Homo sapiens: one gene and its partners. The protein of the gene in region 1 purifies or fractionates together with the protein of each later gene. This does not show direct contact. Each region holds a gene or a part of one and is shown in the gene's direction. Other genes may lie near its edges. The genes, in order: SLC22A17, CYB5D2, ARL6IP6, EMC10, ATP13A1, POMGNT2 and CLPTM1L.

Region 1 (4,924 bases):
TCGTGATCTGCCAGCCTCGGCCTCCCAAAGTGCTGGGATTACAGGTGTGAGCCACTGCGCCCAGCCTGACCATTCTTAATGTATTAATAGACCAATGTCCCACCTCCATGGAACAATGGCCTCATCTCCAAAAATCAATTACTCAGTCCCCTAATATCATTGGCTTTACCTTCACTGACCAGTAGTATCCTCATGCACAAGTGGCCAATGGCCTCCCCTCCACAGGTTAATAGTTCCAACTCCGTATATCAATGAACCCCCCTCCCACATCTCCTCTGAACAGTCTGAGCAAGATAAGCTCCAGGCCCACTGACCATTAGCTCTGTTCCTAAGGATGAATGGTCCCAAATCCCCTAAGCAATATCCCATCCCCTCTGTTGAGTGATGTCACATCCATTGACAAGTGCCCTAATCTCTGACCAATAGCCCAAGAGTCAATGTTCCCACCTCTTAAAGAACCACAACCACACCCCAGTGCCCAGTAGCCAGGCATCACCCACCCATGGTCCCCATCCCTCCCCATCTTCTCAAGCCTCTGTCCAACTCTTGCTCCCAGAACTTCATTCTCATACCTCTAGCTCTGAAGTGTGCAGCTGGGTCTTACCCAGCAACTTTCCCACCACCAGAGAGTCTGGGTGACCAGAAGCCCTTCCCACTTTCTAGATTTGGCCGTCGCGGGATTGTGCTGCTGACCTTGGGGCTGGTGGGCCCCTGTGGAGTAGGAGGGGCTGCTGCAGGCTCCTCCACAGGCGTCATGGCCCTCCGATTCCTCTTGGGCTTTCTGCTTGCCGGTGTTGACCTGGGTGTCTACCTGATGCGTAAGTGGCACCCTCCCAGAATTCCCTCCCTTGGGTCTCATGCCTACCTGCCTGCATCGCCAGGCCATCCTCACTGCCCCCTAGGCCACATTTCAGCTGCCTAGAATCTCAGCTATCTTTCTGCCCAGGCCCCCTTGAAGAATCCAGGGCTCTTGCTTCTCTCTACACCTATCTCCCCCTCCCGACAATCTTTAAAGTCTTTGTCCTGGACTTACTGCTGCCAAGGAATAAGGTGCTATTCCCCTGATAGCAGTAAGTCCAGGGACAAGGATTGTCCCTAGCTGTGTGACCTTGGACAAGGGTTGATGTGAAGGTCAAATAAGAGGCCTGATGGGAAAGGGCCTATAAATTGGAAATGTTGAACACTCACCCAGGACTCTGGCCCTAGAGCCCTCCTAGGTTTGAGCAGGAGAGGAGAGAGGGCTGAACAGTCTCCCCAGTCCTTGCCACCCAGAGGTTAGCAAGGGAGGCAATGGCTGCAGCCTCCACTCTGGGTCTGACCTCTCTCTCTGTCCTCCTCCCTCCCTCTTTCTTCTTCTCTCTTATGCCTTCTTCCTCCCTGGCCTCCCTCTCCTCTCTCCACCCCTGCTGTATCTCCAGGCCTGGAGCTGTGCGACCCAACCCAGAGGCTTCGGGTGGCCCTGGCAGGGGAGTTGGTGGGGGTGGGAGGGCACTTCCTGTTCCTGGGCCTGGCCCTTGTCTCTAAGGATTGGCGATTCCTACAGCGAATGATCACCGCTCCCTGCATCCTCTTCCTGTTTTATGGGTCAGTATTACCCTTCACCTGTCGTCTGGCAATTCCCATCTCTGCCTCCAAACTAGCCCTAGCCCGGAGACCCCTCCTCTTCTCCAACTACCCCTGGTCCAGGCCTACCCCAGCCCCAGTCCCTCAGAGGTGCACATTTCCCACCCCTAGATCAGGAGAAGGGAGGCCTCACAGTATACCCCTTCCCCCCTGCCCCCAGCTGGCCTGGTTTGTTCCTGGAGTCCGCACGGTGGCTGATAGTGAAGCGGCAGATTGAGGAGGCTCAGTCTGTGCTGAGGATCCTGGCTGAGCGAAACCGGCCCCATGGGCAGATGCTGGGGGAGGAGGCCCAGGAGGCCCTGCAGGGTAAGAGACAGGGATCCCTGTGAGTGTTGCCTCACTTGCACACATGATGGTGCCCTCTGCATGGCTGTAGCTGTGCCACCTTCTCCCAGGGTCCCCACCACCCATGTGGGAGGATCCTGGGATCTCAGGGTTTTCTTCTGACAGCTCCTCTCTCTCTCCCAAAGACCTGGAGAATACCTGCCCTCTCCCTGCAACATCCTCCTTTTCCTTTGCTTCCCTCCTCAACTACCGCAACATCTGGAAAAATCTGCTTATCCTGGGCTTCACCAAGTGAGCCTGGGTGTCTGGGCTGAGGGCCAGGCCAGTAGCTGGAATGGGGGCTGGCTGGGTGGGAAGGCCCGGGGACCCCTGCGGAGGACCATCAGCACTGTAGAAGGCTGCGGGAGGGGATTCAGGCTCTGTTCGTTGCTTCCCCACCCCTTCTCACAGCTTCATTGCCCATGCCATTCGCCACTGCTACCAGCCTGTGGGAGGAGGAGGGAGCCCATCGGACTTCTACCTGTGCTCTCTGCTGGCCAGCGGCACCGCAGCCCTGGCCTGTGTCTTCCTGGGGGTCACCGTGGACCGATTTGGCCGCCGGGGCATCCTTCTTCTCTCCATGACCCTTACCGGCATTGCTTCCCTGGTCCTGCTGGGCCTGTGGGATTGTGAGCATCCTATCTTCCCCACAGTGTGGGCTCAACAAGGGAACCCCAACAGAGGTGCTTCAGACAGGCACAGCCATTTCTTCTGGCACAGGCCTCCCAAGACAAGCCCCAGACCCTGCCCAGCTCTTCCACGAGCCTCCACCTGGCCCCACAGCCCCATCTGCTCTCCCAGTCAATTACTGAATGCCCAGAGCCTGCCCAGCTAGAGCCATGGGAACAGAGAGCCAAGGGGATGACACCCGGGACTAGGCCAGCCTTGACCTCCCCACCTGCATTCATATCATCCCTCTTGCTTCTGCAGATCTGAACGAGGCTGCCATCACCACTTTCTCTGTCCTTGGGCTCTTCTCCTCCCAAGCTGCCGCCATCCTCAGCACCCTCCTTGCTGCTGAGGTCATCCCCACCACTGTCCGGTGAGAGCAGGGGTGCCCCCAGGGGCAGAGCCGGGCCCCCTCGCCTCCCGCTCCCCCACCCCACCCCTGAGGACAGGGCCTGCGGGCTGGAGGAGGGGGGCTGCGGGAGAAGGGCCCAGCAAGGCTACAGCTGTGGGCTGAGCTCCTCCTCTGTCTCCCCCCAGGGGCCGTGGCCTGGGCCTGATCATGGCTCTAGGGGCGCTTGGAGGACTGAGCGGCCCGGCCCAGCGCCTCCACATGGGCCATGGAGCCTTCCTGCAGCACGTGGTGCTGGCGGCCTGCGCCCTCCTCTGCATTCTCAGCATTATGCTGCTGCCGGAGACCAAGCGCAAGCTCCTGCCCGAGGTGCTCCGGGACGGGGAGCTGTGTCGCCGGCCTTCCCTGCTGCGGCAGCCACCCCCTACCCGCTGTGACCACGTCCCGCTGCTTGCCACCCCCAACCCTGCCCTCTGAGCGGCCTCTGAGTACCCTGGCGGGAGGCTGGCCCACACAGAAAGGTGGCAAGAAGATCGGGAAGACTGAGTAGGGAAGGCAGGGCTGCCCAGAAGTCTCAGAGGCACCTCACGCCAGCCATCGCGGAGAGCTCAGAGGGCCGTCCCCACCCTGCCTCCTCCCTGCTGCTTTGCATTCACTTCCTTGGCCAGAGTCAGGGGACAGGGAGAGAGCTCCACACTGTAACCACTGGGTCTGGGCTCCATCCTGCGCCCAAAGACATCCACCCAGACCTCATTATTTCTTGCTCTATCATTCTGTTTCAATAAAGACATTTGGAATAAACGAGCATATCATAGCCTGGACTTCCCTCCCTTCTGTTTGTCCTTCTATCTCTTGGGGGAAGGTTTTTCTCAGTGGAATGCACACCGATAACAAGCTCCCCTCTCCCTCCTTGTGCCCTGCCCCCAGTGGTGACTTACAGACAACTGTCACCACTTACTGACTGCTTGCACTGCTGCCAGAACTGGCCTAAGCACTTGACACACTTCGTATCATTTAATTTTTACAGCATTGCAAGGTAGGTGTTTGGATCAATTAGGGGTTGTTGTTGTTGTTGTTGTTGTTGTTTGTTGTTGTAAGCAATAAAAACTGGCTCTAATGAACTTAAGCAAAAAGGGAATTATTCGATTTGGTGGGGCAGGTTGTGGTGGGAGCTCACAGAATGAAGGAGAAGCAGAACTCGTCGTAAAATAACTAGTCAGGAGCGGAGAAGGCTCCTTGTCTGAGGAGCAAAAACCAGCAACATTTTTGTCAGGGCTTCTTCTAGATGAATGAGCTCCAGTGCAATTTAATCTTTGGGTTATCCCACTGAAGATTAATTTCCAGAGAGCATGTCACTGGCTAGCTAGAGTAACATGCCTCCCACACCCCTATTTCTCCCAACTGGGAATAGGTAAAGCAAAATTTGGGCACTGTTAGCAGAAGCGGGACTGGGTGTCACTCAGAAAAAAACAATGGAAGCTCAGTACAGCATTCTTATTCTCTTAAACAAGATGAGAAAACTTATGGTCAGAGAGACTCAGTAACTGGCCCAAGGTTACAAAGCTAATGAGTGGCAAAGCTGAGACATGATTAGATCCCAGAGAGCTCTTCATGGATGCATACTGTAGTCACCTTCCCAACTCTTCTAACTTTTGGGCACATTCCTTGGAAGGCAAGAGTGGGTTCTCTTGGCTCTCTGGAAGGTGGCAGCAGAAAACTGAGACTTCTACCTCAGTGCCAGGGCCTCCCTCTTAAACCACATCTGGTTTGGCTTTACCACTTTGGGCAAATCTCTTAGCTTCCAACTTCCTTTAAGACTTGCTATGAGGATTAAACAAGGTAATGTATCCTAAGTGTCTCTTAAACTACCCCCACTAGGTGTAAGCTGTGTAAACCAAAAATTATCTGAGACAAGTCTCAATCAATTTAGAAAGTTTATTTTGCCAAGGTTAAGGATGC
Region 2 (3,354 bases), on another chromosome or scaffold:
TTTTAGTAGAGACAGGGTTTCACCATGTTGGCCTGGCTGGTCTCGAACCCCTGACCTCAAGTGATCTGCCCGCCTCAGCCTCCCAAAGTGCTGGGATTACAGGTGTGAGCCGCTGCGCCTGGCGCTAAGCTGTTCTGAGTACTGCGCCTCACTAGTAGAGAGAGCCATCATAGACAAGTAAACAGATTGAACAACTCCACATAGGACCATGCATCAAACTGTGATGTAATACGTTTGGGAGCTTTGGCTCCTTTAGAGCACATGCTCAGGAGTGGCTTCTTGGAGAAAATGACCGTTAAGCTGAGACCGGCAGGTGAGTGGGAGGCAGCCACACCGAGACCTGAGGAGAGTGTGCTGGGTCAGGGAAGAGCGGTGCGAAGGTGGGGAGTGGGGAAGCACAGCCAAGACACAGAAAGGAAGCCAGTGTGCTGGAGCCCCCCGTGAACGAGGGGGGACGTAGCTTGTAAGAGGCTGAAGAAGCAAATCAGTTAAATGGTTACAGGGCCTTAGAGGCCTTGATAAGAAATTTGCATTTTTGTCTGCTTTAAGAAGCCATTGAAGGGTTTTAATCAGGCATCGGAGAGCCATGGTAGGATTCATGTTTTTAAAAGATCCCCTAGTTGTTTTATGGACAGAGAACTCTAGGAGGGCATGAGCTGACCAGAGAGCAGTTAGGAGGCCACTGCCACAGTCCGTGGTTTGGAGGAGGGTGATGGCAGTGGGAATGGAAAGGAGTGAACAGAATCAGGATCTGTTCAGAGGTAGGACTGACGAGGTTTTCTGATGGATCCGATCAGACAGCAAGGAAGGGAGTATGATGTGGATGTAGAGGAGGAGGAGTCAGGCTCCTAATGCAGGTCACAGGCTAGAGGCAACACGGATTTGGGAAAGTCAGGGAGGGCGTTGGACTTGGGAGACGAGCTGAATCTCAGATGCGCTGAACATACGCGCCACTAGAATCGAAGGTAAAGCTAGTTCTTAGGGGTTGCTCCCTCTTCGGTCGCACCTCCCTCAAGTGCTTCCTTTCTGCTTCTCTTGCCTTGTGGCAGGTGCTGCCTCTGAAGGGCATTTGCACCTCAGGACTGGGCTACATTAGGACCCTGGGCTGAGAGAACTGACCTGTTTTTCCTTCTGGCCTATAGGCTGGTGGACCACTTGCTGGCTGCTGCCATAGCTTAGACTTTTACAAATTCTGACAGGCATTTTAAAGCCGGGCACAGTGTGACTTACACCTGTACCCCCATCTACTCAACAAGCTGAGGTGGGAGGATTGCTTGAGCCCAGAAGTTCAAGACTAGCCTGGTCAACAGAGTGAGACCCCATCTCTATTATAATAAACATTTAAAAAATGTTAGCCAATAAGCCATTCATTCATCAAACATTAATTGAATACCCAGCGTGTGCTCCAAGCACATGGAAGCATGGAGAAATGAATCACACATGGCTGTGCCCTCAGGGAAGCCTTGTCTGGAAGTGAGAGAGGTTTGATGGTTTCTGTGCTGAAGGGCTCTGCAGCTAGAAGAGGGATGCAGCTGTGTGGGGGCTTGTAGGGTGCTAAGAGGTTGGTGTGCAAGGCACCAGGAGTGCCTGCAGTAGAAGTTCTTATTAAACGCGCACCAGCAGGACTGAAGTCAGAAACCCTGGGAACTTGTGCCTTCCCACACCTGCCTCAGCAGCTGAGTATTCACTCTCACTCACATCTGCCTTCCTGTCATCACAGGGAGGGTGACAGGACGGTTCTACGGAGAGGATGGGCTGCCCACCCCGGCACTGACCCAGGTAGAAGCTGCGATCACCAGAGGCTTGGAGGCCAACAAACTACAGCTGCAAGAGAAGCAGACATTCCCGCCGTGCAACGCGGAGTGGAGCTCAGCCAGGGGCAGCCGGCTCTGGTGCTCCCAGAAGAGGTAAGCAGGCTCCCCTTCTTCTCCTTTCTGCCTGTCCCAAATCCAACTCCTAGGCCATCCTGCCTGCAGTATTCAGTGAATTCAGGAATTGATTGTTAACCCTGGGGAGCTTTTTCAAAATACTGATAATAATTCTCAACTTTGGCTGCATATTAGATCTTCTGGGGAATTGCCGAAATTACGGATGGTCAGACCTCACTCCACTCAACTGAATGGGTTGAGACTTGGACTTGAGGCCTGGGCATCTTTTTATTTTTTCCGAATTCTCCAAAGATCCTGCTGACACAACCTTGACCCGGGAATGAGAAGGCACAAGCAGGATTTCTTGCTTTCTTTGGCCTGCTCAGCCACCCACGGGCTTTGGTTTCCTGTTTGACAGCACAAATCATGCCTATCTATAGGAGAGGGACGAGGAGGTGGGGAGGGTACCTGCAGTGATGGCTTCAACTGCTGTCTTAAAAACAGGTGAGGCGGGCATGGTGGCTTGTGGGCCACACCTGTGGTCCTGGCTACTTGGGAGACTGAGGCAGGCAGGTCGCTTGAGCTCAGGAGTTGGAGTCCAGCCTGGGCAACATAACAAAAAAACAGTAACAAACAAAAAAAACCACTGCAAATTCGGAGTTCTCAGCCTTAAATGAGCGGAGCAAGGGCAAAGGTAGCAGGAAGGAAAGCTCCTTCTTTCCTGGCCGCTAGCTTTGAAGAGACAGCTTCTCCAGTGTCATCTCAAGAAAGAGGGGACTGTGAGAACCTGGCCTGCTCACTTTATGGAGAGAAGCTAAGATAGGCGTGGGCCTTCCTGTGACACAGGCCTGAATGCAGGTAGCCTCAGAGAGCACTGGTCTCTGAGACTCCAGGAGGAGGAGACTCCAGGAGGCCTGCGTGCGTTCAGATGCTTGACTTTGCTTCCTTGGGCCCTGCCTCCTTTTCCCTCCCCACAGCCTTCCCCTGTGTCTCCTGAACCTCTTCTTGCTTTCATGACTGAGTAGTTCAGGCTCTGCCTTCCCCACAAAACCCTTCCAGGGCCACCCTAGTGAACTGCGGGGCCCTATCCCTGTGCCTCAGCTCAGTTTGTTGTCTTCTGTTCACCTGTGTGTGTCCCATTAGACTGAGAGGAACAAGTGCCGAAGGCAGGGACAAGGTGTGGAGTACAGATCCCCAATGATGGGATGGAGGCTGGGTAGAAGAGGGAGGCGTTTGGGTGACAGCCTTGTTCTTGGTAAGCTAGAAGTAGGATGTTTTCTCGCTGGGGGCAGTTTCTCTGACAGCAGGCACCGGAAGCTGTCTGAGGCGTCAGTTCCAAGAACCTCAGTTTCTTTCTTGCAAGGCCTCTGAGTCCATCAGAGACTGAGCCCAGTGCCCTGAGGTGGGCAAGGCCCCTGCCCAAGATAGGAGGGTGCTCAGGTTGTTGGGCCACAGCTGAATCCTCCGTGTCTGAAGCCTAGTGCCA
Region 3 (3,992 bases), on another chromosome or scaffold:
GTTGTCATATCTAAGAATCTGTTGCTTAATTCAAGGTCATGAAGATTTATACCTATGTTTCCTTCTAAGAGTTTTATAGTCTTAGTTCTTGTATTTAGGTCTTTGGTCTATTTTGAGTATATTTTGTATATTGTGTAAGGTAGAGGACCAAATTCATTCTTTTGTGTTCAGTGTCCTATAACACAAAAAATACACATTAATTTGAGATGAATTACAGATTTAAATATCAAAAGAAGAAAAGTAAAACCTCATTAAGATACAGAATATCTTCATAACCTTGGAGTAGTCAAAGATTTAATGAAAAAGCCACCAAAAAAGCACTAGCCATTTTTTAAAATATTAACTGGACTTTATTCAAATTAAGAACTTCTGTTCATCAAAAGATCTTATTAAGAGAGTAAAAAAAGACACACCATAATAAACATTATTTACAACACGTATCTTTAACAAAAGATTTGTATCTAGAATACGTAAAGAACTCTATAAACCAATAGAAAAAAATGAGAAAAAGTTTTGAACACAAACATCAAAAAAGAGGCTTTCTGAATGGTCAGTAAGTACATTAATCATCAGAAAAATAAATATTAAAACCACTACAACATACTCTGCAGACCTACTAAAATGGTTAAAATTTATAACACTGATAATACCAAGTGTTCATGGTGATGTGGAACAACTTAAACTCATACGTTGATAGTGGAAGTGTAAATTGGTACAACTATTTTTCATACTTTCTACTAAAGCCTAATGTATATCTACCTTGTAACTCAGCAGTTCTACTCCTAGGATCTATCCAAGAGAAATAAGTGCAGATTCCCACCACCCACCGAAGACGTGTTCATAGTACCTGTATGTATAGGAGCCCCAAACTGGAAACACCCATCAGTAGTAAAATGGGTAAATACATTTTGCTATATACTGCAGTAGAAAAGAACAAACTAATACTACATACAACATGGATGAATCTCACAAAGACAGTACTGAGCAAAAGAAGGCAGACGCAGAAAAATATTTATTGTATGATGCCATGTAGATGTAGTTTCAAGAGCAAGTGAAACTAATCTTGGTGACAGCCCTCAGTATTGCAGTTACCTCAAGATCTGCAGGAGGTAAGTTGAATATTTAAAAGGGATCTTTTTGCAGTGCCAGAAATGTTCTCTATCTTTATGTGGTTGGTGAGTATATGAGAGTCTACCACAGTAAAAATGCATTGAACTGTATATAAATGTTAGACATTTGCATTTTACTGGTATGCTTTAATTAAAAAAGTGAAATGCATGTATAGATATAGATTGGATGAGGTAGACATTGTATTTAATTATCATTTATTGAAGATATTAAACTCATTAATTGAAGATAATATTTTCATTTTACTTGAGTCAATTTTAAATAAGTCCTCTATAGAGTTTTGACAAAGGAGAACCATAATTCCTTCAGTCTTTGTTAACAGACTTTAGAGATCACAAATGAGAGTCACAAGAGAGAAAGCCTGCAGGGATTGTCTGTCTTCCTCCAAAGAGGAAAATCATGGTGAATATTTTGAAAAGCTTTAAATTAAAGCAAGTGATTCTTCAAAGATTTAAGTCCTTTACCTAGCAGTAGTCTGTGACAATTGCTACAGTGTTCCCAGTGGGAATATGGTACATTTGAGATGACAAAGACTAGGAACCACTACTCCCGAGCATTTTTTCATTGCCATTAAAATGCATTGCTTTGCCTGCTTAGTAAGGAAGTCACTGAACATTTGAGCATGTACATCTCAGTAAAATTCAATTCTACCAACATTGTAGTTGTCGGCTTAGTAAACTGAACTTTAAAGGTTTTTCTATTTTTGTGGGATTGTGAGGATCACAAACTACTAAAACAGAACAATTAACTCTGGAAACCTTTTGATGATTAACTTTATTGGGTGAGTACAGTCATCCCCCTTTATCTGTGAAGGACTGGTTCCAGGATTCCACACAGGTATCAACATCTGAGGATACTTGAAGTCTCATTCAAAAATGGCTTAGTATTTGCATATAACCTAAGCATATCCTCTCATATACTTTAAAACATCTCCACATTATTTATAATATTATACCTAATACAATGTAAATGTTATATAAATAGTTGTTTTATTGTTCAGGGATTGACAAGGGAAAAAAGTGTATACATGTTCTGTACGGATGCATTTTTTTTTTCAAAATATATTCTACCTGCTTGGTTCATTTCGCAGATGTGGAACCCACTGATATGGAAGACCGAACTGTATTAATTTAAAAGTTTTTTGGATCGTCACTAAATATTTTATGATGAATGATAATGCTGATTGTTCAACTTTAGGTTTCTGTTCACTAGTCATCAACATATATTTGAGGAATTTCTTTTTTAAAGGGACAAAGCATTATACCTATTTTACGATGTAGATAGGTAATATAGGTAGGTAGATTAACCCTTAATAACACATGAGAAGCATCTTTGACTAGCCCTAGTTGGGTAAAGAAAGGTTGAGTCGAAAGTAAATAATAACTCCCTTGGAACAGAGCAGGGAACCATCAGGAAGCATCAGGGTCTATGTAGCTTCAGATGAATGCAAAGGGCTCTTCTTTGAAGAATGTACCTTCTTCAATCTCTGCCACAGATATTGTGCGACTGGAATCACTATGAGGTGCTCTTCAAGTGTTAGTTCACAGCTAAGTGCTTCTCTGGCTTTGGCTACTCCTTAGGAAAGGAGGAGAGGATATGGGTATTTATGACCGTCTCAGTCCAGGGCCCTTACTGCTTTTGTCTTTTGGCTTTTACTTCTGCTAGTGCACCTTCCTGTGTGTCCTCAATTTGTTTTGCTCCAGAAAGGAGAGTATTCTGTTCTGCCTTCTAGAGAGTCTCAGTTGGATACTACCTTCTTTTCTTTTTAATATGTCTGATTCTTACTAGGATAAGCAAATAGTATTATTGCAATACAGTTAGTGGGAAAAACTGTTGTAAGATTGTTACAAGATAAAGGAAACAAATGTCAGGGAATATTCATGCACATAAGAGTTATTAAACTAGTTGGCACTCCTAGCAATCATAAAAGAGATGTGTCTTTGCTGATTCTTAAGAACTCATTGAAAACCACTTCAATTAAGTAACCTATTAGAATGATAGCTGAAATATCTATGAAAGACATAGGGAGTTCCTTCATATAACCTAAAAGTGGTGCAAACAGAACAAATACTTGAAATAATATGTATTTTAAGTCAAATCAAAGTAAGAACAGACAGCATGGAAACACACCGCTAATTAATGAAAGAACTGTTTGTAAAATAACAAAACTTATACCTTAGAATTAGGTTATGGCTACACACAGTGACAATGAAACACAGTAAAGAAATAATAGGGATGAAACTCAGCATTACTCATCAGTAATGATTTGAAACAACTGTAATTGTTAACCAGTACAGTTTTGACACAGGACTTAATAAGATCTATCCACTATTTATCCTGCAGATGTCCAATATTCTTTAAGTTTTGTATTCATATGTGAACATTTGGGAAATACACTCCAAGGTCATAAGTATTTTCGATGAAAACTTTTGGTGTCTTTGTTATACCACGTTACATTTTTCTTTTTTGATTTGTGTTTTTCTTTTTTTCTAGGAAACTGACTGGACATTCTTTCCACATGGGCTATAGCATGGCGATTTTGAATGGCATCGTAGCTGCTCTTACTGTAGCATGGTGCCTCATGTAAACCCACACTGGAGCGATATTGTTGGCAAAACTTAATCATGATTGTTTTGTAATAACAAGAAGGAGCATCACTGTCTACTCAGAAGACTGAGAAACCTGCTGTTCATTATGTAGTTCAGATATTTATCACAATCATCCTCATTATGGAAGACCTTTTAAAGCATTGTTTTAGAATGTCTGAGTATTAAGATACAGATTAATTGGGAATATCTGAGTATTAAGTACTTTCTTCAGAGTATAAGATGTTTACCTCATCTTTTTACTTTTGTGTGTGTAGT
Region 4 (3,286 bases), on another chromosome or scaffold:
CCCTCCCATTTCCTGCCACCAGAAAATGTTATCGGCTGCGTGGCATTGCGAAAGCCTTCCTCTTCCCAGCCTAGGGTTTCATGTGGGCATTTAGGTGCTCCCAGTACATAGTTGCATGGCAAACAATCCTAAAATATACAAGACTACATTTAGTATTTTGTAAAATTCTTTACTAACCCCAAATTGTCTACTGGAAACTATAGGCTCCTTTTTTTTTGGTGGGTGGGGGGCAGGTGTGTTTGTGGGATGGAGTTTCACTTGTCACCCAGGCTGGAGTGCAGTGGCTCAATTTTGGCTCAATGCAACCTCCACCTCCCAGGTTCAAGCAATTCTCTTGCCTCAGCCTCCTGAGTAGCTGGGATTACAACCGTGTGCCACCACACCCAGCCAATTTTTGTATTTTTAGTAGAGACCGGGTTTCACCATGTTGGCCAGGCTGGTCTTGAACTCCTGACCTCAAGCGATCCACCTTAGTCTCCTAAAGTGCTGGGATTACATGTGTGAGCCACCGCCCCTGGCCTCTGTAGGCTTCTTTAACCCATCAGAGAGACTCCCTGGTAAGGATTAGGGGCTAATTACTGGTGCCTCTTCAGCTGTCAGTCCATCCTCCTTTATTTGTACCCACCTTCCAGTCAGCAAGGCACAACAATGTTGTTACAAAGGAAACAAACTCAATTTGGCCCATTTCCTGGAAATGCAATCTCCCAAACAGGTTTGTGTGAACCAAATTCCATTTTCCTTTGTTTCCCATGTGCAGTCCCAGTTGCATTTCCATGGGAGCCAATCCACCCACCCATAGAATGACTTGAAAATGTGTGAAGTTCAGAAGTTTCATACCAAGAAGTTTGCTGAGCATGATGTTTGTATATTGATTAGGAGTAAAAATGTTCATTTTTACAAAATATTACAACTTCTCCCTCTCCCCTCCTTCCACCCAGTATCCCCTGTTCCTCCCCCAGGCATTCTGGTCACTGTTCCTTTTTGTTGAGATCATTCTCGGTGTCTCATATAGCTGGGTTGCAGCTCCGTTCTTTGCCAGGAGGTGGTAATAGAGGATTCCACGCACTCAGAATGCCTCAGGCCGGCGCCTGTGGCTTCTCTCAATGGAGGGAAGTGTCCTGCAGGGGGCGCTGTTGGTCCTTCAGGCAAGGTCGGGTTCCCTCGAAGTCTCTGTCTTAGCAGTTGCTGGTCTTCAGAAACATTGGGCACCAATTTTCTCATTTCTGAAATGGAATTCAGGTGAGGTCCCCTCAGTGCTGAGGTGCTTCATGTTGTCAGAGGAAGAGTTGGGAAGGGAGCGGAATGGAGCAGAAAGGCGTCATCCGCTGCTCACTGAGCTCAGATAGGAGGCCAGGGATCGGCAGATTCAGGAGCCCACTCCTGGCCAACCCCAGGGGCCCCACCCAGTCCTGTCCCTGCTCCTTACGTGCTGTGTATCTTTAGGCAAGTTGCTTCCTGTCTCTGAGCGTCGTCTTTGTTTCCGCCTTCCTGGGCCTACGGCAGGCCTGATTCCTCCAGGCAGTGTCCAGAGTTCCGGACAGATGGAAAAGGAAGAGAGAATGGGTGTCACAAAGGTCTGTCCACTCCTGGGCCTCAGGCTTGGGGGCCCTGCTCAGGGCTAGCCTGTTTGGGCCTCGGTATGGACTCCTGCCTCCTGGTCAGGACCTGGAAACCTGGGAGCAGGCAAGGCAGGAACAGGAGAGGGAGGCAAAGGCCCACCAGGCAGGGATGCAGGGGCCACCTGGAGACGGAGGAGACGGGGCTCCCGGGAGGGAGGCCAGTGGGAGTGAGAGCTTGAAGGAGAGAGAGCCAGGAGAGGAGACAGGTCCAGAGAGGAGGGAAAGGAAAGGACAGGGCAGAGACAGAGAAACCAGAGAGAGGGAAGGAAGAGAGACCCAAGGGGGAGAGACAGGGAAGGAAGAGGGAGGTGAGAAGAGGAAGAGGCAGATTCAGAGGAGAGAGGAGAGAAAAGAGGTGGAAATCAAACAGGAGAAAGAGGGAGGAGAGGAGGGAGGAGAGAGTGTAGGAAAAAAGCAGGAGGAAAGAGCCGGGCACGGTGGCTCACGCCTGTAATCCCAGCACTTTGGGAGGCCAAGGCAGGCAGATCACGAGGTGAGGAGATCGAGACCGTCCTGGCTAACACGGTGAAACCCTGTCTCTACTAAAAATACAAAAAAAAAATTAGCAGGGCATGGTGGCAGGCGCCTGTAGTCCCAGCTACTCGGGAGGCTGAGGCAGGAGAATGGCGTGAACCCTGGAGGCGGAGCTTGCAGTGAGCCGAGATTGCGCCACTGCACTCCAGCCTGGGCGACAGAGCGAGACTCCGTCTCAAAAAAAAAAAAAAAAAAAAAAAGAAAAGATGGCCAGAGCAGGAGGGGAGAGAGGAAGAGGGAGAAAGAAGGAAACAGTGTAGGGGGTCAGAAGTGGAAAGAGAAGAAAAAACAGAAGAGGAAAGAAAGACGAGGGGGTGAAAAAAGGGACAGGAAGGAAGAGAGGGAGAGGGTGGGTGCCATGGCTGGTGAGCTCGGAGAAGAGGGAAGCAGAGAAACGGGTGAAGGAGGGAGCGTCCTAGGGAGAAGTGGGTGGGGGAGAGGGTGTTGGGGGAGAAGAGGGTGGGGGAGAGGGGGCCCCGGGAGAGGGAGGGATGGAGGAGCGGGGAGCTCCAGCCAGAGAAGAGGAAAGAGAAAGGAGAGAGCTAGGAACTGGGAAGGAAAAGAGCTAGGAGGAGACCATGAGACAGAAAGAGAAGAGGGTGAAGAGAGAGGATAGTGGCTGGGAGGAGAGAGGAGGAGGGAGGAGCACAGAGGGAGAGGAGAGGAAACAGCCAGAGAATCTGCTAGAAGGGAGAGAGGAGAGAGAAGAGCCGGACAGGGAGAGCAGAAGTGAGAAAAAGGAGGGTGGCCACAGAGAGGACAGCGAGAAAAAGAGAACAGGAAGAGGGGAAAAGAGAAGAAATGGGAGAGGGAAGAAGGGTGGGAGAGAAAACGGAACAGAGAGGGGGCACAGACAGCGGACTGGACCGAGAGGGAGATGGAGCGGTGCGGAGGGGGAGAGAGAAAGAGGGAGGGAAGGAGGGTAGGAGAGGGCTGGAGATAGGGGAAAAGAGAAAAGGAGGGTAGGAGAGGGCTGGAGAGAGAAGGGAAGTTAAGAAGGGAAGGAGAGAGACAGACATTAGGGAAGAAGGAAAGGAGAAAGGAAAAAATACAAAAAAGGGCAGAGAGAAAAGAACAGGCCGGGCATGGTGCCTCGCACCTGTGGTCCCAGCACTTTGAGAGGCTAAGGCAGG
Region 5 (4,354 bases), on another chromosome or scaffold:
CTGGTCTCTTGCAGGGCCGAGATGGTGGTGCCTGACTTCTCGGAGCTTTTCAAGGAGAGAGCCACAGCCCCCTTCTTTGTATTTCAGGTAAAGCAGCAGCTCTGGCCCATCTCCCCATTTCCTCCCTTGGGGCTTTCCTAACCGGATCAAGCCTGCCCACCACTTCTAAACCTGGAAGCCTCTCCCCACCCTCACATATCAGATCCGGTGGGTGGAAGGGGCTCATGGGAACAGGGCGGGTAGGGCAAGGACAGACAGGCTGGTATCCCACAGGTGTTCTGTGTGGGGCTCTGGTGCCTGGATGAGTACTGGTACTACAGCGTCTTTACGCTATCCATGCTGGTGGCGTTCGAGGCCTCGCTGGTGCAGCAGCAGATGCGGAACATGTCGGAGATCCGGAAGATGGGCAACAAGCCCCACATGATCCAGGTGTGGCTGCCAGGGAGACCCAGGTTGGGGGTGCAGCACAGGTGCGGCTTCTGTGCTGACACCCATGCCCCGCCCAGGTCTACCGAAGCCGCAAGTGGAGGCCCATTGCCAGTGATGAGATCGTACCAGGGGACATCGTCTCCATCGGTGAGGCCGGGTTCCGCTCAGTCCCAGTGGGAGCCCCAGCCTCAGGGCCTCTGGCCAACCCTCCTGCCTCTGCCCTGCAGGCCGCTCCCCACAGGAGAACCTGGTGCCATGTGACGTGCTTCTGCTGCGAGGCCGCTGCATCGTAGACGAGGCCATGCTCACGGGGGAGTCCGTGCCACAGATGAAGGTACTTGGTGGAGGATGGGGATCCTCAAGCTGTTCAGGAGGAAACAGGCCAGGAGGTGGAGGCCCAGGGGGTGGCGGGGATCCCCCTCAGGCACAGGCGGAGGAGGCAGTGTGGGCACAGATGAGCTCTGTGGACTGGGGAGCCGGGTGGTGGGGGCGAGGAAGGAGGTGAGAGAGCCAAGGGCATCCAGGGTACATTGGTGCCCTGGGATGTCAGACCAAGGTGGGCTGGGAGCAGTCCAGAGGGGTGAGTCCCAGACGAGGCCAAGTGCAGGCCCCAGAGAGCAGGCACTGTGAGTGCAATGGGGAGAAGACAGGACGGGGTGAGGGTGAGGATCTGGGAGCTGGGTGGGATGTATTGGTCGGGTGGGGATCCCCCTGGCTCATTCCAGCCTCAAGGTCCAGCTGTCCAGGAACTCAGATGGAGAAGGAAGCAAGGTAGGCCTGGCCATCCAGATTCACGATCTTCCTCCCCAGGAGCCCATCGAAGACCTCAGCCCAGACCGGGTGCTGGACCTCCAGGCTGATTCCCGGCTGCACGTCATCTTCGGGGGCACCAAGGTGGTGCAGCACATCCCCCCACAGAAAGCCACCACGGGCCTGAAGCGTAGGTGCCTCATGGGCGTCTGGGGGTATCTGGGCTTCCACCCCCTTTGCCCGTCTGCTTGATCATGAGGGAGTCAGGACGAGGAGACAGGCATGACGGTGACTCTGCTTCTCTCCCCAGCGGTTGACAGCGGGTGCGTGGCCTACGTCCTGCGGACCGGATTCAACACATCCCAGGTGCGGGGCCAGGTCTGGGGAGGGCGGGCCCCAGGGCAGTTGGACAGCCAAGGTATCAGCCCTTTCCGACCCCAGAACATCTGCCCCACGGGCTGACTCTGGCAGCACGGCCCTGGACCTGGGCCAGGGTGCAGAGGCCACCCCAAGACCAGGCCCACGCTTCCAGGCCTGAGCTGCTGGAGGGAGTCCAGACAGCAGAAAGGCTGTTCCTCCATTCCTCCAGGGCAAGCTGCTGCGCACCATCCTCTTCGGGGTCAAGAGGGTGACTGCGAACAACCTGGAGACCTTCATCTTCATCCTCTTCCTCCTGGTGTTTGCCATCGCTGCAGCTGCCTATGTATGGATTGAAGGTAAGCGCCACGGCCTCTGTGGTCCCCTGCGCCCACCCTCCGAGGCTCCAGGTTGGCAGGCCCTGTCTCCACAGGTACCAAGGACCCCAGCCGGAACCGCTACAAGCTGTTTCTGGAGTGCACCCTGATCCTCACCTCGGTCGTGCCTCCTGAGCTGCCCATCGAGCTGTCCCTGGCCGTCAACACCTCCCTCATCGCCCTGGCCAAGCTCTGTGAGTGTGTCAAATGGGATGGGGTGCCGAGTGGGCTGGGGCCAAGCAGGACCCCTGACCTCACTCCCGCCCCTAGACATGTACTGCACAGAGCCCTTCCGGATCCCCTTTGCTGGCAAGGTCGAGGTGTGCTGCTTTGACAAGACGGGGACGTTGACCAGTGACAGCCTGGTGGTGCGCGGTGTGGCCGGGCTGAGGTAAGCATCAGGGGCCCTGCAGCAAAGGTCACCCAGATGGGGTTTCTGGGAAGTCGAGAGACAGGTGGCCCATCCACCCCAAGCCCTTGCAGTGAGGGCCCGTCAGAGGCCCTGCCTCGGGTTCATTTCCAGGGGCTCCCCACAAAGTCCTGGGTGTCAGCCATGGTAGCGGCACGGGGGCTCAGCTCAGGCCTGGAACATCCCACACCAGCCATGCACCACATGACCCCCAGGCACAATGCCTGGCTTCTGGGGGCATCTGTGAAGCAGGTGCAGGTCTCATAAAGACCCAGTTGGCGCCCAAGCCACCCCAGTGACAAGCACGGAATGAATGGCCTTGGGGGTCCTTCTGCTGGTGGGGATGCAGCTTCGCCCTACCCGCCTGCACTCTGTAACCAGCTGTTCCCCGACCTTGCAGAGACGGGAAGGAGGTGACCCCAGTGTCCAGCATCCCTGTAGAAACACACCGGGCCCTGGCCTCGTGCCACTCGCTCATGCAGCTGGACGACGGCACCCTCGTGGGTGACCCTCTAGAGAAGGCCATGCTGACGGCCGTGGACTGGACGCTGACCAAAGGTGAGGGGCTGGGGCCTCAGGCCCAGCAAGGGGGAGCCACTGGCTCTCACAGCCCTAGGCAGGTGGGCTGCACCCCTCAGAGCATCTTGGGGACAGGCAGGCCTACAGCTCTGATGCTCCCCGAGGTGGGTGGCCAGAGGCTCACTTTAGACCCAGGATAGGCCACGTCCTTGGGTGTCCCTCTGGGTTGGAATCTGCCCTGCCCTGGCCGAAGCCACAGTGCCAGGGTCCTCCAAGCCCAGGTCTTCCAGCTCTGGACCAACACCTGCTCTAGCCCAGAGCCCCGATCAGGCCCTGGGGGAGGCAGGAGGGAGGTGGGGGAGGCCGGGGTGAGAGGTAGGGGCTTGGCTGCCTCTTTGGAGCAAAGCCCCTCAGGACTCGTACTTATTTGTTTCCAGATGAGAAAGTATTCCCCCGAAGTATTAAAACTCAGGGGCTGAAAATTCACCAGCGCTTTCATTTTGCCAGTGCCCTGAAGCGAATGTCCGTGCTTGCCTCGTATGAGAAGCTGGGCTCCACCGACCTCTGCTACATCGCGGCCGTGAAGGGGGCCCCCGAAACTCTGCACTCCATGGTGAGCTGGCCCCAGCCTGGGGCAAGGGGTGGGGGCGCGGGGCAGCCCGTGACATCCCCCTGCATTCCCTGCAGTTCTCCCAGTGCCCGCCCGACTACCACCACATCCACACCGAGATCTCCCGGGAAGGAGCCCGCGTCCTGGCGCTGGGGTACAAGGAGCTGGGACACCTCACTCACCAGCAGGTACGGGCCCAGGCTCCCCCTGCCTTCACCATGTGCCTGGCCCGTCAGCTCCTCCCTGAGTCACCTCCTGTGTCCCACAGTGCCAGGTTGAATGGTTGTGATTTTGTCCTCCTTGCCCCGCCTCCAGCTTCTACCTTTGGAGACTCCAAATGGCACTCAGTCTGTCCACTGCTGTGGGGACCCACCCAGTCCTGGCTCACGCAGAGCACACGCAGGGCTTACCTGCCCCAGTCCTGGTGTGTCCCTAGCTCTACTCTTTTGCCCTGGTCTTGGGCAGGGCTAGGTGGCATCCTCAGCCCTCTCACCCATCCATCCTCCACAAAGCCCACCCTCCGCCTCCACCACCGGCACATCTGCCGCTTGGCTTCTTCCTGGGCTCTCGTTCTTTCTGCTTGCACCCTACAGCTGCGGATCCTTCCAGAATTTAGCCTCAGGTTGCAGTACTGTGTGCAGAGCCCAGGCCACAGCTCACAGCCTGCATGCTCTGCCCCGTTCCTGCACCTGGAGCCCCCTTCCCAGTGACACAGGTCCTCATCGCCTTCATAGTGGCCACTTCTGAGGCCTTTCCACCCTCTCTGGATTCCATTCTCACCTCCTCTCTCATGGCACTCAGCACTCCGATTTCTGTGACTTTCTTGATCATGCGTCTCCCCTGGTGCAGTGTGAGCTCCCTAAGGCCAGGGGTCTGTGCCCAGTCTGTGGTATGTGGTGGAGC
Region 6 (4,200 bases), on another chromosome or scaffold:
AGGAGCAAAGCTTAGCTGACCATACGTGTGTGTGTCTCTCAAAGGCGGCATACTGGGGTCTTGGTGTGCAACCTGGGAACAGTGTTCACAGATCTCCAATGCCAGTTGTTCTCATTTAAGGAAAAGTCATTACCCAGAGTCCAGGAATGTCAGGCCCCTGCAAGGGATTTTCCTATGGCCTGTCTTTCCTATGGCCTCTCTTTGTTAGCTTTTGCTGCAGCAGTGCTTCATCACAAACAGCCCCAGAATTTCAGGGATGTTTAATCAGCTGTTGCTCAGCCCTGATGTCTATGTGTTGGCTGATCTTGGCTGCGTTTGGCTGATCGCACTGCTGCTCTTGGCTGGGCCCACTCAGTCATGAGGGATCAGCTGAACTAGAACAGGGCATGGCCGGAGCAGTTCTGCTTCATGCGTATCTCGCTCCTCTTGGGGCCAGCAAGTTAGCCTGAATACATTCTTCTTATGGCAGTGTCATAAAGAGGGCAAGGCCAGCCCAAACACTTTCCAAACCTTTGATTATGTTCTGTCTGCTGACATCTCACTGGCCAAAGCAAGTTAAATGGCTAAGCCCAAAGTCGGGTGTGGGGATGCACTTTCCAACATGGAGGCGATGGGGAGGGAGAGAATATTTTAAACAATGGTCTAATCTACCACGCCTACCAATGTGCACAATGGCTGCAAGGATCCAGTGCTGTAGCGGGCACACAGAGCCTAGCTACCGTGCCTGGCACATAGCAGGAGCTTGTAATGATGCCAGGAAGACTGCCAATTCCTTTTTCTTTTCCTTCTCTCCTCCTGCAGGCTTTCACCAGTTCTCAGGATGCCCATAGGGATGGGTGAAGCCTGCCTGGCCTGTGGTGCTTCCCAGTGGCCGTCATCTCATTAGGGCCCCACAGTGGCATTAGGATGCACCTCTCGGCGGTGTTCAACGCCCTCCTGGTGTCGGTGCTGGCAGCGGTCCTGTGGAAGCATGTGCGGCTGCGTGAGCATGCAGCCACACTGGAGGAGGAGCTGGCCCTCAGCCGACAGGCCACAGAGCCAGCCCCAGCACTGAGGATCGACTACCCGAAGGCACTGCAGATCCTGATGGAGGGCGGCACACACATGGTGTGCACGGGCCGCACGCACACAGACCGCATCTGCCGCTTCAAGTGGCTCTGCTACTCCAACGAGGCTGAGGAGTTCATCTTCTTCCATGGCAACACCTCTGTCATGCTGCCCAACCTGGGCTCCCGGCGCTTCCAGCCAGCCCTGCTCGACCTATCCACCGTGGAGGACCACAACACTCAGTACTTCAACTTCGTGGAGCTGCCTGCTGCTGCCCTGCGCTTCATGCCCAAGCCGGTGTTCGTGCCAGACGTGGCCCTCATCGCCAACCGCTTCAACCCCGACAACCTCATGCACGTCTTTCATGACGACCTGCTGCCACTCTTCTACACCCTGCGGCAGTTTCCCGGCCTGGCCCACGAGGCACGGCTCTTCTTCATGGAGGGCTGGGGCGAGGGTGCACACTTCGACCTCTACAAGCTGCTCAGCCCCAAGCAGCCTCTCCTGCGGGCACAGCTGAAGACCCTGGGCCGGCTGCTGTGCTTCTCCCATGCTTTTGTGGGCCTCTCCAAGATCACTACCTGGTACCAGTATGGCTTTGTGCAGCCCCAGGGCCCGAAGGCCAACATCCTCGTCTCAGGCAATGAGATCCGGCAGTTTGCACGGTTCATGACAGAAAAGCTGAACGTGAGCCACACAGGAGTCCCCCTAGGCGAGGAGTACATTCTGGTCTTTAGCCGAACCCAGAACAGACTCATTCTGAATGAGGCAGAGCTGCTGCTGGCACTGGCCCAGGAGTTCCAGATGAAGACAGTGACAGTGTCCCTGGAGGACCACACCTTTGCTGATGTCGTGCGGCTGGTCAGCAATGCCTCCATGCTGGTCAGCATGCATGGGGCCCAGCTGGTCACCACCCTCTTCCTGCCCCGTGGGGCAACTGTGGTAGAGCTCTTCCCATATGCTGTCAATCCCGACCACTACACTCCCTATAAGACGCTGGCCATGCTGCCTGGCATGGACCTCCAGTATGTAGCCTGGCGGAACATGATGCCAGAGAACACAGTCACACACCCTGAGCGGCCCTGGGATCAGGGGGGCATCACCCATCTGGACCGGGCTGAGCAAGCCCGTATCCTGCAAAGCCGTGAGGTCCCACGGCATCTCTGTTGCCGGAACCCCGAGTGGCTCTTCCGAATCTACCAGGACACCAAGGTGGACATCCCGTCCCTCATTCAAACCATACGGCGCGTGGTGAAGGGCCGGCCAGGACCACGGAAGCAGAAGTGGACAGTCGGCCTATATCCAGGCAAGGTGCGGGAGGCACGGTGCCAGGCGTCAGTGCATGGCGCCTCCGAGGCCCGCCTCACTGTCTCCTGGCAGATCCCATGGAACCTTAAATACCTGAAGGTGAGGGAGGTGAAGTACGAGGTGTGGCTGCAGGAGCAGGGGGAGAACACCTACGTGCCTTACATCCTGGCTCTGCAGAACCACACCTTCACTGAGAACATCAAGCCCTTCACCACCTACCTGGTGTGGGTCCGCTGCATCTTCAACAAGATCCTCCTGGGACCCTTTGCAGATGTGCTGGTGTGCAACACGTAGCGAGCAGGCCACAGCCTGGCCTCGGGAAGGTGGCTCCTGCAGTTCAGCGTCCCTGGGCCCATTAATCCCACTGTGGAGACTTCTGGGAACTATTTATTGAGCAGGCCTGTGCCTCCACATCATCTTGTTGTCTCTGGGGTGTGGTGTCACAGCACTCCTCTTTGCCCTAGAGATAAGGGACCTGACTTCCCCTTCTCCCATCCTGAACATTTGTACCCCTGGAGAAGTTCCTTAGCAGGGAGGAGGAAGAGGAGAGGAGGAAGCAAAGAATCACAAGGAACCTCTGGCTAGGTGATCCTGATGTTTCCTACTGAGTTTTTCTGGTATCCAGATTTCTGGAAACCGAGTAATCATGTACTGTTTGATTGGGTGGTTCATCTGCTTCCATCCCAGTGAAATTTACCTGTAGCCCAGTGAAGGGTGTGTTTGGAACATTCATTAAATGATTCTAAGCATCTTGGTCAAGTCTTCTTATTGGATGGGAGGAAGGGGAGCTGGTCGTCAAAACCCAGGTGCCCTTTAATCTTGATTGTTAGCTAGGGAGACGTGGCAATGGGAAAGCGCCCAGGATGGCAAAGTGAGCAAGCTGGTTGGATTTCATCTTGACTAGCTGGACTAATATCACAGTTCCACCTACATGGGATAAAAGCCTAGAAGTAGGTAGGAGAGGGCTGAGGGGAGGAAGAGCTGTATCCACCATGGGTTTTTTTTTGGGCTCAACTAGACATTAAGACTCGCAAGACCTGGACAGATCATACCTGGCATCAGAGTTTCTTAGAAGGATGGAGAGAGATGCTCAGCATGCCAGCAGGGCCATGTCAGCAGTTCCCTTCCACAGGAGCAGTCCTTACATCAGTACTCCTGAGGGCCACCTTGATTCAGAAGCCCATGCCCCATAGGAGTCAATGTGTTTTCAACAACCCACAATCAGAGTTCCCAGGGTCCCTCAAGGGACATGCCCAGTTATGAGTTTCTGCACTTAGGGAAGCCTAAGGCCATGGTTTCTTACCAGATGGTATAGCTTATTCTTTGTCCTTCCAGCCCAGGTGTAGCTTATCAATCAGAGGTCAAAAACTCCCATGGGCAGTTTGGCCTAATACTGTACCTGACATTCAGCTAACTGGCTTGTCTGGCTTCCATGGGAGCAGAGCTAGAAAGTTAGCCCAAGATAAAATCTGTCCTGAAGAAAGAGGAGTTTTGGCCTTTTATTGTTGGGGAGACCTGCTGCAGGTCTGACTCCTGTAAGGGGGAGAGGGAGAGAAGCTGGGGAGAGGAGGTAGAGCCTCAGGCTGTAGCTCAGTGCTGAGAACCTCTCAGCAGGCTGATCGGGGAGTTTTGAGCCAAAGGTGTCCATTAGATAAGTATTCCCTCCCACCCGCCGATGCTAGTCGTCACCTGGGAGCCGCAGTGGGAAGTGTGGCCTCAGCATCAGTACCTTGGTGGATTCAGCATGGCAGCTGAGCCATCCCTTGTTCTCTGCTGCAGGAGATCTGAATGGTGCATTTTCATGGTCGCCATGGATCTTTATGACATTCCTTTCATCCAGAATAT
Region 7 (4,819 bases), on another chromosome or scaffold:
CCGTGAGACAATCCACCCTGGAGAGCCTACCAGTCCCCTTATGTTTGACAGCTGGAGTTGGAATTTGCCTCCCGCAGACCACAGGTCTACAGCCTTCATTCACGTGTCGCACAGACTGTGGCAGGACCAGCACCCGCTGCTGGTGTGGGACGCCTGGCCCTGTAGGGGACCCCAAGAGTGGCTGGAGAGCAGGGCGTGATGCCTCTTGGGCCACCCTGCAAAGGGCTCACGAGCCTCCTGAGGAGGATGCATTTGATCAGGGTAACAGGAGTCAGCAGAGGGCTTTCCAAGGACAGGTTTGCCAAGAAGCGAGAACAGACTGAGGGGGGAACGATAGAGGCACTGGGTGTAGTCAGACACCACTGCAATGGTAGCCGAAAACCGCGCCGTGAGAAGACTCTGTGGGGAGGGTAACTAGGTGCATGAGAGTGAGAGGAGCGAAAAAAGCCTCGGATGGCTCCGAAGCTCCTGGCCCAGCTTCCAGGGGTTGGTGGCCCAGGACCGCCCCTGCACGCGGCCTCGGGTGCCTGCTCCAGGCAGACCTGCTTCTCTGGCCCATTCTCGGCACCAATCACTGTCCCATCCGCCCGTCAGCCAAGTCCTCTGAGTTCTTCCCGGAGCCCAGCACCCTGATGCAATTGTCCCTGCTCTGAAAACCCTCAGCAATCTATTGGGTCTTCAGTAGCATCTACTCTTTCTAGAAATGTCGAACAAGGTTTTTCGATTGTGCTGCACGTGTGGCAGACACAGAAACGGAAACGACCTTCCAGAGAACTGGCCAAAGGACGGGAGCTGCTCCAGTAACTGAAGGGCACAGACTGAGCGCTTCTGATGGAGTCGGGGAGGTCGCCGGCCCATCCACCGGCTGCCCGAGGGCCTCCCACTGACCTCCCCCGGCCGCCCTCCGAGGGGCCTCTGCTGACCTCGCCGTGCTGGGCACGCTCGGCTTTAGCGGGAAGCTGGGGGTCAGGTTCAAGGCTGTGAGGAGCCACTTCAGCCCGGGAATCTGAATTTTTTCTTCAAAAGCGCCTGTCCCCACAATGGGTTTGTACTGGGGAAAAAACCCACACACGGGATGAGGTGCCCGGCTTCTGTGAGGGTTCTGAGCACTTCGTTTTTCTTCCCTTTAGATTCTGACAACTGTGGACTAAAAGGGTTGCAGGCCCAGTGCCGGAATTCCAGTATCACCTTCCACCAGGCTCCTCACACGTCGACATGGCCCCCACTTGGTGGTCTGGCAGGCGTCGGCGGTTGGGGACGGCGCCCCGGGGACCCCGCGGCCCTAGCCTTCCCCGGCGCCCCGCGAACGCCCTCCGCGGCCCCAGCAGCTGAGCGCCTGGGTCCCTGAGAGGCACCCCAGGAGGGCGGCGCGGGCGGGTAACGTCACACACGCGCCGCATCCTGGATGCGCGTGCGCGGCAGCGGCCGAGACTCCGTTTCCCAGGGAGCCGCGCGGCGCGTCCACTTCCGGCAGGCGGCGGGGCCCGGAAGCGGCGCGCGGGGCCGGCGAATCCCGCGGCGCCAGGTGGGAGCGGGGCCGGAGCATGCGGGGCGGCCGGCGGTCTGCGGCGCGCGGCGCATTCGTTCCCCCGCGGCGGTGGCGGTGGCGCGCGGCGGCTCTCCAGTGAGCGGCGGAGCCCGGAGCGGCGGGCTGGGCGCCGGGCGGGCGGGGCTCGCGGCTGAGAGGCGGGCGGGCCGGGGGCGCCGGGCGCGGGGCCGCCATGTGGAGCGGCCGCAGCTCCTTCACCAGCTTGGTGGTGGGCGTGTTCGTGGTCTACGTGGTGCACACCTGCTGGGTCATGTACGGCATCGTCTACACCCGCCCGTGCTCCGGCGACGCCAACTGCATCCAGCCCTACCTGGCGCGGCGGCCCAAGCTGCAGGTGAGCGTCCGCGGGGCCGGGGGCCGGGCGGGTTGGGGTGGGGGCCTCTCCTCCAGGCCCCAGACGTCGCCTTCCCGTCCCAGTTCGGAGCTGTGGCCGCGCGAGTCGAGATGGAACCTTTCCTGGTTCCCCAGCGGCCAGGTCTTCCGCCCTCCAGCTGGCCGTGGGATTTGAGTGCGTCCTGCCAGGGCCTGGCCGAGCTGACTCTCGACGCCCCCTCCTTTCCAGCTGAGCGTGTACACCACGACGAGGTCCCACCTGGGTGCTGAGAACAACATCGACCTGGTCTTGAATGTGGAAGACTTTGATGTGGAGTCCAAATTTGAAAGGTATGGGCGTAGGACAAAATGCCAGTGAAAGGGAAAACATTACTCATGTTCAGATTGTTTAAAAGTTAGCTTTCTGTACATAACATGTTTATTTTAGAGAACTAGTCTTACCGAATGTCTTGAAGTGGTAGAATATCCTAACTGGAGGCCTATGCGTGGCCTGTAAACATTCAGCCTGGAAGGTGACAGGTGATGAATGTCGTTTAAGAAGTAGTTCTCAGCAGAGTGTGATGGCAGTGGGATGTCCTGGACGGGGAGGCTCCGAAGGAGCAGGGGCCACGCTTGGTGAACCAGTGGAGAGCAGACAACTCTGCAGTTTCACTACCGGGGACCAACTTGTCTTTTCCTGGTGGAAGTAGTTCGCTTAAGTTACTTGTGAGGGAAAAGAGATGAGGATAGAGGAAGCAATTTTGTAGAAAATCATAAATAAGTGACATGTGACGTTAGAATAGATCAATGTCCAAATATGTAGAGTATCTTAAAAATTACATCTGACATGGCCTAATTTTTTTTAATTGAATAAGTATACTTTTAAATATGATTTGCTTCTCACAAGTCAACCATTTCCCTTCATTGCCTGGGAGGTATCTGAGGAGAGAATAATGAAAGTTTGAGACTCATGCTGGACTCCACGCCCTCTAGGCAGCCAGTCCCTGGGGGTAGCTGGAGGCGCTGGCAAGCCGGTTTCTGCCTGGCCTCTTTAGGCCTGTGACCTCAAGCCAGTTCCTGCCCTCTCTCTGCCTCCATGAAGGGGAGGCCAGAAGTGCTGGTGACCAAGCTGCCCGCTCGGTTGTAGCTGCCCACACCTTTCAAAAATGCTCAGGATTCATCTGCACTGGGTTTAATTTCCCAGACATGAATACTGCCTCTTCCGTGCCGGGCCGTGTACCAGTTACCAAGGACAGCTAGTGAGGTTTTCCATTTGACCTGGCACAGTGTCAGCCTGGAGGAAGTGGGGAGAATGAGCACTCTTAACACAGCTCCGCCTCAAGTGTCTCCAAGTGCACATTCCACCAGAAATACACAGCCCTGCACCCTCTGCCTGAAGAGAGACACTTAAGATGTCCTGGTGGAGACATACTCTTTCCTGGGTAGTGAGGAGCCATAGATGCCTTTGTGTTTTTCATTACAACTTTGGCCGTAAGATTTTTTTTTTTTTTTGAGATAGAGTCTTGCTCTGTTGCCAGGCTGGAGTGCAGTGGCGTGATCTCTGCTCACTGCAACCTCCGGTTCCCGGGTTCAAGGGATTCTCCTGCCTTAGCCTCCAAAGTAGCTGAGACTACAGGCACCCGCCACCACGCCTGGCTAATTTTTTTATTTTTAGTAGAGACAGGGTTTCACCATGTTGGCTGGGCTGGTCTGAAACTCCTGACCTCGTGATCTGCCCGGCTCGGCCTCCCAAGGTGCTGGGATTACAGGCGTGAGCCGCCGCACCCGGCCAACCGTAAGATTTTTAAGGAGAGGCCGGGCACAGTGACTCATGCCTATAATCCCAGCAGTTTGGGAGGCCAAGGCGGGAGGATCACTTGAGCCCAGCAGTTCAAGACCAGCCTAGGCAATGTGACAAAACCCCATCTCTACAACAGTTTTCAAAGTTAGCCAGGCATGGTGGCACGCCCACCTGTAGTCCCAGCTACTCGGGAGACTGAGGCGGGAGGTCACTTGAGCTCAGGAGGTTGAGGATGCAGTGAGCTGTGATTGCACCCCTACACTTTCAGCCTGGTGACAGCGAGACCTTGTCTCAAAAAAGAGACTTTTAAAGAGGAAGAAGAACTCATGTAACCGTAAACAGGTGGAATGCGAGGTTTTTCCATGGGGCTGTAGTATGGACGTCGGGCCCTGGTGTGCGGGTGAAGAGCCAGGCACCTGGTCCGAGGCCTACAGTTGTAGCAGCTCGCCGGGCCTTTCCTCAGCTCGTGCTGGATGCCACACAGTCAGGACTGACAGCCTTGAAAGTCAGTCCTTTGTGGCTGATCATCTTTTTATCCTTAAAACTACAACACCCAAAAAAACTACCCACATTAAATTTCTGAGGTTCCAGTAGTGTGGGCCGAGGCACCTGGAGCCCTCGTGGCTGCTGCCCTTCCCTTCTGTCGCTTCGGAGTTGGGTGATTCAGTGTGTGTGGTCAGCTGGTACCCTGGCCAGGCCCAGAAGCTGCTTTCCATCTGGCTGCTTCAGCCTTGTGGCCTCAGGTGGGTTATTGACCTCTCAGCCTCCTGAGATGGAGGCAGGAAGTGCGGGCCGTTTTGCTTTCGGCTGTAGGCGCCCACACCTGTGCCGAGTTCTCAGGACGCGCACGCGTGCGCGTGCACACACACACACACACACACACACACACACGACTCGTAAAGCCCTGGGCAGGTGGGTTTCATTTTTAGTACTTCTGAGCTAAAATTAGTTTATTGAAGCAGCTTTATAAAGGTATTTGAATAGGTTCTAGAGACCCAGAATATAATATGTATGTAGTGGAAATGATTGTTCTGTTTCAGGACAGTTAATGTTTCTGTACCAAAGAAAACGAGAAACAATGGGACGCTGTATGCCTACATCTTCCTCCATCACGCTGGGGTCCTGCCGTGGCACGACGGGAAGCAGGTGCACCTGGT

What was found.
Region 2: the proteins of SLC22A17 (region 1) and CYB5D2 purify together in Homo sapiens (affinity purification with mass spectrometry; one large-scale study listed by BioGRID and IntAct). This does not show direct contact.
Region 3: the proteins of SLC22A17 (region 1) and ARL6IP6 purify together in Homo sapiens (affinity purification with mass spectrometry; one large-scale study listed by BioGRID and IntAct). This does not show direct contact.
Region 4: the proteins of SLC22A17 (region 1) and EMC10 purify together in Homo sapiens (affinity purification with mass spectrometry; one large-scale study listed by BioGRID and IntAct). This does not show direct contact.
Region 5: the proteins of SLC22A17 (region 1) and ATP13A1 purify together in Homo sapiens (affinity purification with mass spectrometry; one large-scale study listed by BioGRID and IntAct). This does not show direct contact.
Region 6: the proteins of SLC22A17 (region 1) and POMGNT2 purify together in Homo sapiens (affinity purification with mass spectrometry; one large-scale study listed by BioGRID and IntAct). This does not show direct contact.
Region 7: the proteins of SLC22A17 (region 1) and CLPTM1L purify together in Homo sapiens (affinity purification with mass spectrometry; one large-scale study listed by BioGRID and IntAct). This does not show direct contact.

Annotation. Positions count from the first base shown.
Region 1 is NC_000014.9:23,345,166-23,350,089, reverse strand, and holds the end of SLC22A17 (solute carrier family 22 member 17), read left to right. Parts: intron 1-663; coding exon 664-818; intron 819-1,418; coding exon 1,419-1,584; intron 1,585-1,783; coding exon 1,784-1,929; intron 1,930-2,093; coding exon 2,094-2,199; intron 2,200-2,358; coding exon 2,359-2,576; coding exon of another isoform or gene 2,577-2,630; intron 2,631-2,877; coding exon 2,878-2,989; intron 2,990-3,153; coding exon 3,154-3,442; 3' UTR 3,443-3,772; downstream 3,773-4,924. UniProt on the Homo sapiens protein: Cell surface receptor for LCN2 (24p3) that plays a key role in iron homeostasis and transport.
Region 2 is NC_000017.11:4,152,954-4,156,307, forward strand, and holds part of CYB5D2 (neuferricin isoform 1 precursor), read left to right. Parts: intron 1-1,720; coding exon 1,721-1,907; exon of another isoform or gene 1,908-1,970; intron 1,971-2,336; exon of another isoform or gene 2,337-2,471; intron 2,472-2,993; exon of another isoform or gene 2,994-3,240; intron 3,241-3,354. UniProt on the Homo sapiens protein: Heme-binding protein which promotes neuronal but not astrocyte differentiation.
Region 3 is NC_000002.12:152,756,126-152,760,117, forward strand, and holds part of ARL6IP6 (ADP-ribosylation factor-like protein 6-interacting protein 6), read left to right. Parts: intron 1-3,621; coding exon 3,622-3,715; 3' UTR 3,716-3,992.
Region 4 is NC_000019.10:50,485,966-50,489,251, forward strand, and holds part of EMC10 (ER membrane protein complex subunit 10 isoform 2 precursor), read left to right. Parts: 3' UTR 1-3,286. UniProt on the Homo sapiens protein: Part of the endoplasmic reticulum membrane protein complex (EMC) that enables the energy-independent insertion into endoplasmic reticulum membranes of newly synthesized membrane proteins.
Region 5 is NC_000019.10:19,653,069-19,657,422, reverse strand, and holds part of ATP13A1 (endoplasmic reticulum transmembrane helix translocase), read left to right. Parts: intron 1-14; coding exon 15-87; intron 88-273; coding exon 274-429; intron 430-506; coding exon 507-576; intron 577-656; coding exon 657-763; intron 764-1,239; coding exon 1,240-1,369; intron 1,370-1,489; coding exon 1,490-1,545; intron 1,546-1,768; coding exon 1,769-1,895; intron 1,896-1,969; coding exon 1,970-2,107; intron 2,108-2,183; coding exon 2,184-2,304; intron 2,305-2,722; coding exon 2,723-2,880; intron 2,881-3,278; coding exon 3,279-3,454; intron 3,455-3,528; coding exon 3,529-3,639; intron 3,640-4,354. UniProt on the Homo sapiens protein: Endoplasmic reticulum translocase required to remove mitochondrial transmembrane proteins mistargeted to the endoplasmic reticulum.
Region 6 is NC_000003.12:43,078,138-43,082,337, reverse strand, and holds the end of POMGNT2 (protein O-linked-mannose beta-1,4-N-acetylglucosaminyltransferase 2), read left to right. Parts: intron 1-801; 5' UTR 802-906; coding exon 907-2,649; 3' UTR 2,650-3,104; downstream 3,105-4,200. UniProt on the Homo sapiens protein: O-linked mannose beta-1,4-N-acetylglucosaminyltransferase that transfers UDP-N-acetyl-D-glucosamine to the 4-position of the mannose to generate N-acetyl-D-glucosamine-beta-1,4-O-D-mannosylprotein.
Region 7 is NC_000005.10:1,341,744-1,346,562, reverse strand, and holds the start of CLPTM1L (lipid scramblase CLPTM1L), read left to right. Parts: upstream 1-1,463; 5' UTR 1,464-1,721; coding exon 1,722-1,883; intron 1,884-2,111; coding exon 2,112-2,212; intron 2,213-4,702; coding exon 4,703-4,819. UniProt on the Homo sapiens protein: Scramblase that mediates the translocation of glucosaminylphosphatidylinositol (alpha-D-GlcN-(1-6)-(1,2-diacyl-sn-glycero-3-phospho)-1D-myo-inositol, GlcN-PI) across the endoplasmic reticulum (ER) membrane, from the cytosolic leaflet to the luminal leaflet of the ER membrane, where it participates in the biosynthesis of glycosylphosphatidylinositol (GPI).